2 separate regions of the Homo sapiens genome follow, and region 1 is linked to region 2. Evidence: fine-mapped expression QTL. A gene starts in region 2. The other region holds a variant in brackets. All regions are shown on one strand. Distances are from middle to middle. Region 1 overlaps CEP97 (centrosomal protein 97). Region 2 holds the start of NXPE3 (neurexophilin and PC-esterase domain family member 3).

Region 1 (5,247 bases), 30 kb after region 2:
CCACACAGTTAGAAGTAAAGCTCTCCTCAGCAAATGTAAAAGAACAGAAATTATAACAAACTGTCTCTCAGACCACAGTGCAATCAAACTAGAACTCAGGATTAAGAAACTCACTCAAAACCGCTCAACTACATGGTAACTGAACAACCTGCTCCAGATTGACTACTGGGTACATAACGAAATGAAGGCAGAAATAAAGATGTTCTTTGAAACCAACAAGAACAAAGACACAACATACCAGAATCTCTGGCACACATTCAAAGCAGTGTGTAGAGGGAAATTTATAGCACTAAATGCCCACAAGAGAAAGCAGGAAAGATCCAAAATTGACACCCTAACATCACAATTAAAAGAACTAGAAAAGCAAGAGCAAACACATTCAAAAGCTAGCAGAAGGCAAGAAATAACTAACATCAGAGCAGAACTGAAGGAAATAGAGACACAAAAAACCCTTCAAACAATTAATGAATCCAGGAGCTGGTTTTTTGAAAGGATCAACAAAATTGATAGACCACTACCAAGACTAATAAAGAAGAAAAGAGAGAAGAATCAAATAGACACAATAAAAAATGACAAAGGGGATATCACCACCGATCCTACAGAAATACAAACTACCATCAGAGAATACTACAAACACCTCTACGCAAATAAACTAGAAAATCAAGAAGAAATGGATAAATTCCTCGACACATACACCCTCCCAAGGCTAAACCAGGAAGAAGTTGAATCTCTGAACAGACCAATAACAGGCTCTGAAATTGTGGCAATAATCAATACCTTACCAACCAAAAAGAGTCCAGGACCAGATGGATTCACAGCCAAATTCTACCAGAGGTACAAGGAGGAACTGGTACCATTCCTTCTGAAACTATTCCAATCAATAGAAAAAGAGGGAACAAAGCTGGAGGCATCACACTACCTGACTTCAAACTATACTACAAGGCTACAGTAACCAAAACAGCATGGTACTGGTACCAAAACAGAGATATAGATCAATGGAACAGAACAGAGCCCTCAGAAATAACGCCGCATATCTACAACTATCTGATCTTTGACAAACCTGAGAAAAACAAGCAATGGGGAAAGGATTCCCTATTTAATAAATGGTGCTGGGAAAACTGGCTAGCCATATGTAGAAAGCTGAAACTGGATCCCTTCCTTACACCTTATACAAAAATCAATTCAAGATGGATTAAAGACTTAAACGTTAGACCTAAAACCATAAAAACCCTAGAAGAAAACCTAGGCATTACCATTCAGGACATAGGCATGGGCAAGGACTTCATGTCTAAACACCAAAAGCAATGGCAACAGAAGACAAAATTGACAAATGGGATCTCATTAAACTAAAGAGCTTCTGCACAGCAAAAGAAACTACCATCACAGTGAACAGGCAACCTACAAAATGGGAGAAAATTTTCACAACCTACTCATCTGACAAAGGGCTAATATCCAGAATCTACAATGAACTCAAACAAATTTACAAGAAAAAAACAAACAACCCCATCAAAAAGTGGGCAAAGGACATGAACAGACACTTCTCAAAAGAAGACATTTATGCAGCCAAAAAACACATGAAAAAATGCTCACCATCACTGGCCATCAGAGAAATGCAAATCAAAACCACAATGAGATACCACCTCACACCAGTTAGAATGGCAATCATTAAAAAGTCAGGAAACAACAGGTGCTGGAGAGGATGTGGAGAAATAGGAACACTTTTACACTGTTGGTGGGACTGTAAACTAGTTCAACCATTGTGGAAGTCAGTGTGGCGATTCCTCAGGAATCTAGAACTAGAAATACCATTTGACCCAGCCAACCCATTACTGGGTATATACCCAAAGGACTATAAATCATGCTGCTATAAAGACACATGCACACGTATGTTTATTGCAGCACTATTCACAATAGCAAAGACTTGGAACCAACCCAAATGTCCAACAATGATAGACTGGATTAAGAAAATGTGGCACATATACACCATGGAATACTATGCAGCCATAAAAAATGATGAGTTCATGTCCTTTGTAGGGACATGGATGAAATTGGAAATTATCATTCTCAGTAAACTATCACAAGGACAAAAATCCAAACACCGCATGTTCTCACTCATAGGTGGGAATTGAACAATGAGAACACATGGACACAGGAAGGGGACCATCACACTCTGGGGACTGTTGTGGGGTGGGGGGAGGGGGGAGGGATAGCATTAGGAGATATACCTAATGCTAAATGACGAGTTAATGGGTGCCGCACACCAGCATGGCACACGTATACATATGTAACTAACCTGCACGTTGTGCACATGTACCCTAAAACTTAAAGTATAATAACAATAAAATTTAACCAAAAAAGTTTAGTTTATTTAATAAAGATAATTAGAAGTATTCCTTCCATGGGCCGGGCGCAGTGGCTCACACCTGTAATCCCAGCACTTTGGGAGGCC[G/A]AGGTGGGCGGATCATGAGGTCAGGAGATTGAGACCATCCTGGCTAACACGGTGAAACCCCGTCTCTACTAAAAATACAAAAAATTAGCCAGGCGTGGTGGCATGCACCTGTAGTCCCAGCTACTCGGGAGACTGAGGCAGGAGAATGGTATGAACCCAGGAGGCGGAGCTTGCAGTAAGCCGAGATTGCGCCACTGCACTCCAGCCTGGGCAACAGAGTGAGACTCCATCTCAAAAGAAAAAGAAGTATTCTTCCATGGAAACATCCCTGTGGACTAAATCAAAATCATTTAGAATCTTCATGAAATCTGCTCTAAGTCTGCATACATTCTCCTGCCAAACAAATGGCATGTTGAAAGGTTGTACAAAAATAGGTCCAGAGTAGAAGACAATCGCCAACTTTAATATTTCTCAGCAAGCAATATTTCTAAGTTAGAGATGATCTGTACTTTGGGAAGACAGAAAACTGAAACTAAGAGGCTAGAAGAAAGGGCTCAAGTTTGAATATCCCACAGTTTAAGTTTTTGTGAAAAAAAACACAAACTGTAGATCGTCAACTGCTATAAGATCTGATTTTCCACTTTGCTTCACATGAATTCATCAATAAACTTATCCCTACACAAATTATATTAAATCCTACGTAAAAAAAAAACCAAAAACAAAAACTCCCTGTCAATTAAAATACCATTTTCAATTAAAAAAAAAATTAAGACTCATTCAGCTCTAACATATTAATCTTTTTTTTTTTTTTTTTTTTTTTTTGAGACAAGGTCTCTCTGCCACCCAGGCTGGAGTGCAATGGCACTATCATGGCTCACTGCAGCCTCAAACTGCTGGGCTCACTCAATCCTCCCACCTCAGCCTCCCAAGTAGCTGAAACTACAGGTATGCACCAGCATACCCAGCTAATTTTTTCATTTTTTATTTTTTTTTTAGAGATGGGGACTCACTATGCTGCCCAGTCTGGTCTTGAACTGCTGACTTCAAGTGATCCTCCTGTGTTGACCTTCCCAGGCACTAAGATTACAGGCATGAGCCACCATGCCTGGCCTCTAACATATTAATTTCAAGTCATTGCATTATGATTCCACTCTTGAAAGTGAAGGAACTGTTTACTTAAAACAAGAGAAGTAACAACTATTAAGAAAGGGAACTTAAAACAACCTGCTCTGTCTCTTTAAAAAAAAAAAAAATGTAATACCAGCTACTAGGGTGGCAGAGGCAGGAGAATTGCTTGAACCAAGGAGGCAGAGGTTGCAGTGAGCCGAGATCGCACCACTGCACTCCAGCCTGGGCAACAAGAGCGAAACTGTCTCAAAAAAAAAAAAAGGAAGGCCAGGCGCGGTGGCTCACGCCTGTAATCCCAAAACTTTGGGAGGCTGAGGTGGGCGGATCACAAGGTCAGGAGATCGAGACCATCCTGGCTAACACAGTGAAACCCCATCTCTACTAAAAACACAAAAAATTAGCCGGGCGTGGTGGCAGGCGCCTATAGTCCCAGCTACTCGGGAGGCTGAGGCAGGAGAATGGCCAGAATACGGGAGGCAGAGCTTGCAGTGAGCCGAGATCGTGCCACTGCACTCCAACCTGGGCGACAGAGTGAGATTCCGTCTCAAAAAAAAAAAAAAAAAAAGGAGTTCTGAATAAAAGGGTATCTGATATTTGCTTTTAAAATGCTCCAACAGCATGATTTATAGTCCTTTGGGTATATACCCAGTAATGGGATGGCTGGGTCAAATGTTATTTCTAGTTCTAGATTCCTGAGGAATCGCCACACTGACTTCCACAATGGTTGAACTAGTTTACAGTCCCACCAACAGTGTAAAAGTGTTCCTGTTTCTCCACATCCTCTCCAGCACCTGTTGTTTCCTGACTTTTTAATGATTGCCATTCTAACTGGTGTGAGATGGTATCTCATTGTGGTTTTGATTTGCATTTCTCTGATGGCCAGTGATGGTGAGCATTTTTTCATGTGTTTTTTGGCTGCATAAATGTCTTCTTTTGAGAAGTGTCTGTTCATGTCCTTTGCCCACTTTTTGATGGGGTTGTTTGTTTTTTTCTTGTAAATTTGTTTGAGTTCATTGTAGATTCTGGATATTAGCCCTTTGTCAGGTGAGTAGGTTGCAAAAATTTTCTCCCATTTTGTAGGTTGCCTGTTGACTCTGATGGTAGTTTCTTTTGCTGTGCAGAAGGTCTTTAGTTTAATGAGATCCCATTTGTCAATTTTATCTTTTGTTGCCATTGCTTTTGGTGTTTTAGACATGAAGTCCTTGCCCATGCCTATGTCCTGAATGGTAATGCCTAGGTTTTCTTCTAGGGTTTTTATGGTTTTAGGTCTAACGTTTAAGTCTTTAATCCATCTTGAATTGATTTTTGTATAAGGTGTAAGGAAGGGATCCAGTTTCAGCTTTCTACATATGGCTAGCCAGTTTTCCCAGCACCATTTATTAAATAGGGAATCCTTTCCCCATTGCTTGTTTTTCTCAGGTTTGTCAAAGATCAGATAGTTGTAGATATGCGGCGTTATTTCTGAGGGCTCTGTTCTGTTCCATTGATCTATATCTCTGTTTTGGTATCAGTACCATGCTGTTTTGGTTACTGTAGCCTTGTAGTATAGTTTAAAGTCAGGTAGTGTGATGCTATAAATCATGCTGCTATAAAGACACATGCACACATATGTTTATTGTGGCATTATTCACAATAGCAAAGACTTGGAACCAACCCAAATGTCCAACAATGATAGACTGGATTAAGAAAATGTGGCACATATACACCATGGAATACTATGCAGCCATAAA
Region 2 (5,247 bases):
TATAATATGTGCAAAGAACAAGCAAAAAGTTAAATGCATGCTCTGCCTTACATGTGGAACCCAGTATTTGTTGGAAGTGTTCTGCCAAATTTTTATTAAGCCTACTTCCATATCCAAGACTCATAGTGGCCAATCTAACTTCTTTATGGCCTGTGACAACAACCCCAGACTGCCATTAGGGTTCCTACCCCCATCTCACAAGAGAATTACAAAGCAGTCACTTACATCATTTGGAATTACAATTGTCAGTAACACAAATGAAATTCCTGAGTTCAATATTAAACAAAGAAAATCAGACAGCAACCCTATCCTCTGGGGAGCTAATGTTCTCAGGCAACCATTCCACAAAGATAATATATTATAGGACAACTGCATAGAAACTGTCCAGTTTCTGAGGCAGTCCCTATCCTAACTACTCTGACCTGTTGGCCAAATAAATGTAACTGTACTAGTCACAGCAAGTGTCTGGAACTTTAGTTCAGAATATATAGTTCAGAACAATAGTAAGAGACAAAAGCACAGATTTACATGGAAAATATCTACACTTAAATGCATATATTTCAAACTTTGCAAAGAGTAGCTGTATTTCATAGGATGCTGAGTAAGACCTTGAAACAGGGCAGGATCTACAGAATGAAGAACTGGAGACCCATCCAGGACCCTAACAATGATGGGTTAACCAAATAGGGTCAATCCTTGAAAAAAGATGAAGCAGGGGCAGTAGTCTGCAGGACTTGTTTCCACAGATTCCATTTCTCCTTCGTGTCCCGCAGCCTCACATGCACAAAGTGCTGACTCATCTGGACCTTCCCTTGCCCTTCTTCCAAAGCAGGGCCCCATGTATTCATGGAGGTTACATAGCAAGTGGAGAAGTAATAAAATCAGTTATATAAGTCACACTGTACTAAGTGCTATTTTTTAAATATTGAACACATTGATAGGTTGTGGTCCTCAACCCTGCATGAACATTAATAATCATCGTGGAAGCTTTTTAAAATACAAACAACTGGGCCCCACTCAAACAATTAAATCAGAATCTGTAGGAATAGGCCCAAGAAGTAGCTTTTTTTAAAAAGGTCCCTAGATGATTACAACATACAGCCAAGTGGGAGAACCACTAGTATAGAGTGGCCAGGGACTGTTATTCGTTTCAGTTGGTAAAAGGATGGCCTTTCCAAAATGATGTTTGAATTGTAACTTAAATTGTCAGGTCAGGACAACCCAATTCCCAGGCAATGGGGAAGGCTAACCCCACTTCAGTGATTTATCCCTTCGTTTCCTTTCTCAGTAACAAATAACAGCACTCTATTGGCCCCAAAGAGATTGTGAGGATAACAGACATGGAAAAAAAAATACTAAACAAATTCAAAGAAAAGCAGAACCCAAACACTACGGAGAAATAGTATACTGCTGCCTCCAAACAATTATCAGGGTCTGGGAGTCCTGCCAGTTTCAAATATATCCTGATGTTCCAAATGATAATTAACCACAGTGAGGAGCGGGGAGGCCCACCAAAGCAGTGTGATTCTTTATCTTTAGGAAATGTGGCAACAATCCCCCTTTAATGTAAATAATGAAAAGCAAAGAAAATTTACAATTTTGCACAAATGCTGCATAAATCCTGCCTCGGAACCCCTCTTATTACCACCCTAGTGGCCTTTGATCAGGCAGAAATGGGCAACAGGCCAGGGTCTCCATATCACACCTTGTAAAGTTACACTCGTTTCTCCCCATACGACCTGAATCTGATGTCCCCAAACGGCAGCTCAGTAAGGCCAGAACAGTCCACCGTGTGACAGCAGCGCCAGCCAAGAGGCAGCTGGTGCCCAGAGCAGCGATGAGCCGAGAGATATGAGATGGGCAGGGAGGCGTCGCCAAGTGCTCCGCACCGGGTTAGTGAAGGTGCCTGGAGGACAGAAGTCTTTCGCTGCGGCGTGGAGGTCCGAACTGTACCGAGCTGTGGCGTTGCCGCAAGTGGAGGAAACTGAGGATGGAGATGCTCGCTCCCGGCCCCGCCCCGCCCCGCCCCGCCGGTACTAGCCTGGGCTCCGGCTTCTTAGCTGCGACGCTTTGGCAACCCAGGGCTCCAATTCTGCCTATGCCTTCGACCCGGGCCTCCCCTCCCTGGCACCTATGCCCACAGCCACGACTCCAGGGGCTGCACCTATCAGCACGGGGCTGGGGACTCGGGAGCAGATGCGCGCGGAGGGAGGGGCTTCGCAGTCTAGGAGCGCGCTGGCAGAGCCGGGCAATGGGTCGCTCCGCCCGCAGCGGCCCCTCCCGACGTCCGCACACAGACCACATCCAGCACTCACCTCCGGGACCCGCCCGCCCTTCGCTCTCCGGGGGCCAGGGATCCTGACGCCCCGGTCGGTCGCCGCAGCGCCAGGCCGCTAGCCCCCCGCTTCCTCACCCGGCGACGTCTCCTCACCTCCGACCCCCGGCTACGATTGGTGGAGCTTCGGCGGGGGCGGGCCGAGGGCGTTGACTGACAGCAGCACGCGCCGGGCGGAACCCACAGGCCTGGAAGCGAAGTTGGCACCCTGGCGCTCTACGCCGCCAAGCTCCTGCTCGCGACGCGACACTGCAGCTGTCGCCCCGCGGATCGAGGTCTGGCCCCTCTCACGACCCAACTCCTCGTGAACTTCGGACGTCTGAGTTTCCTGGGAGCATCCACCTACCTCAAGGCTTTTCGCTTGTCAGCGAAAGTGCCCACAACCGCAGTTGACTCTAGTAGGGCAGTCTTTCCTGTGGAGTGATGGAATTTATTGTGCCCTGAACCAGAGAAATGCGATTTGCCAAGTATAAGCACGGATATAGCGGATCCTTGAATCTTTTCCTTGCTTTGACATTAGTCAACAACTTCTACTCGCCAGTAAAACAGCCCGTTCCTTTTACTCTCACTGTACATGATGTCGGTCTCTTGGCAAAGCATACTTTCCTCACCCTCCACCATCCCCAATTCTGGGTTATCCTATTTTGGACATTTTTCTAACTGGTAAAACGTCGGTAGCAGTTTTGTGAAATTCAGGAACTGAGAGGAGTCCTGAGAAGACACTTGTTCAAGAAACCAGAAGGAATTGTGGGCTGCACCGTGTTTCTCTGTGCTTGGAGCACAGTGGGGTTAACACAGGCCCCAAAAGCAGGCCTGCCCCCGGACTATTACCCCAAGGTTTAAGAAAAATAATTAATGTACATGACAACTAAGTATTTTTCCATTTCTTGACCATAATGGACTCTGCATGCTCATTCAGATGTTTTCATGGCAGGCCTGCTTCGTGGGCAACCAGATCCGTGAATGGGATAAAAGGAAGTTCTGCCACAGGGTGGAAGATCTCTTCTGTAGTAATGATCTTCTTTTTTTTTTTTTTAATATACTTTAAGTTCTAGGGTACATGTGCACAACGTGCAGGTTTGTTACATATGTATACATGTGCCATGTTGGTATGCTGCACCCATTAACTCGTCATTTACATTAAGTATATCTCCTAATGCTATCCCTCCCCCCTCCCCCTACCCCACAACATGCCCAGGTGTGTGATGTTCCCCTTCCTGTGTCCAAGTGTTCATTTATGCAGCCAACAAACACATGAAAAAATGCTCATCAGCACTGGCCATCAGAGAAATGCAAATCAAAACCACAATGAGATACCATCTCACACCAGTTAGAATGGCGATCATTAAAAAGTCAGGAAACAACAGGTGGTGGAGAGGATGTGGAGAAGTAGGAACACGTTTACACTGTTGGTGGGACTGTAAACTAGTTCAACCATTGTAGTAATGATCTGATACTCCTTCTTCCTCGAGGAAATACAGCACTCTGGGACCTTTTGAGGACATAAAAGGGTAGCTTCCTTCTGCTATCGAAGAAGAGCCTCATATACTAGACTTCTGCTCTGATTATGCTTTATCTCCCAGTAGGATCCCCCGCCTCATGTACAGCTTGGCTGTCTTACAAGTGGTAAAATACTTAGGACAAGATGACTTCTAGGTCATGGTTTTGGACCTCATTGACCCCATTCTCCCCCAAGCACTCATAACCCTGAGGCATTTGAGTGATCTTACCTATATTTACCTATATTTTACAGTCATAACCACAAATAAGAGCAGCCACTGCACTCCAGCCTGGGTGACAGAGTGAGGCCCTGTCTCAAAAAATAAAAAAATGTTTATATGATGATATGAAACCAAAGGAACTGGTCATTTCTGCCCCATCTGAAAATGTAGTTTACACACTAGTGTTTATTAATGCTAAACTTGATTCTCTAAGCAAAACAAAGCATAGATCTTAAGAGTAGACAAATAAAAGCAAATAAACCTGTCCCTGATGGCAGAAGCTTGAGGCACAAGCACATTAAGTATTTTTATATTTCTTGACCACAGTGGACTCTGTGTTCATTCAGATGTTTTCACGGAGGCCTACATGCATACTCCTGAGCCCAAGTCAGTTCCTCATTCAGTTCCTTTGCTTCCTCCCTTTGAACAAGTCACTGAAATTTGGGCCCCAAGGCCATCTACCTACTGAAAATTAAGTGACCACTGTCACATTAGGTACCAACCACTCTGTTCCAAAACACCATGAACAATTGGAGGAGGCTGCCAAGGGTAAGAGACTGAAAGTGAGTGAAGTAGTTGATGTCACTACTGCGTTGGTCCATGCTCTCAAATTAATGGACATATTTTCCTTTTAAAAGTCATAATTGGCCAGGCGCGGTGCTCATGCCTGTAATCCCAACACTTTGGGAGGCTGAGGCAGGTGGATCTCCTGAGGTCAGGAGTTTGAGACCAGCCTGGCCAACATGGTGAAACCCCGTCTCTACTAAAAATACAAAAACATTAGCCGGGCATAGTGGCAGGCGCCTGTAATCCCAGCTACTCGGGAGGCTGAGGCAGAAGAATCGCTTGAACTCGGGTGGCGGAGGTTGCAGTGAGCCGAGATCACGCCATTGCACTCCAGCCTGAGCAACAAGAGCGAAACTGTCTCAAAAAAAAAAAAAAGTTATAATTAATGATGGCTAATCTCACATGCATAGTTTAGGGAAAAATGAGATCAATTTTTTTTTCCTCCACTCTTGATTTCTGCAGTTCAGTAGTCCTCAAATCAAATTCCACTGATAATCAAAATAACATCAGTAGCATTTTTTTTTTTTTTTGAGATGGAGTCTCACTCTGTCGCTCAGTCTGGAGTGAGGTGGCAGAATCTCGGCTCACTGCAACCTCCACCTCCCGGGTTCAAGCGATTCTTCT

The links. PIP is the estimated chance that this variant, and not a neighbour inherited with it, causes the effect. A credible set is the group of variants that fine-mapping cannot tell apart.
Region 1: its variant is the best candidate, but not a certain one, in a credible set for the expression of NXPE3 in pancreas (GTEx, PIP 0.51).

What each region holds. Positions count from the first base shown.
Region 1 is chr3:101,746,094-101,751,340 of GRCh38, reverse strand. All of the region lies in intron 6 of CEP97 (centrosomal protein 97), which reads right to left. Among named protein-coding and RNA genes, the nearest start is that of CEP97, 24 kb to the right of the region's middle. The variant G/A (reference allele first, on the strand shown) is at 2,450.
Region 2 is chr3:101,776,393-101,781,639 of GRCh38, reverse strand. It overlaps NXPE3 (neurexophilin and PC-esterase domain family member 3), which reads right to left and starts at 2,429. Exons shown (of 8, transcript NM_145037.4): 1 at 2,316-2,429. RefSeq lists enhancers at 1,707-1,756, 2,321-2,615 and a silencer at 2,167-2,516.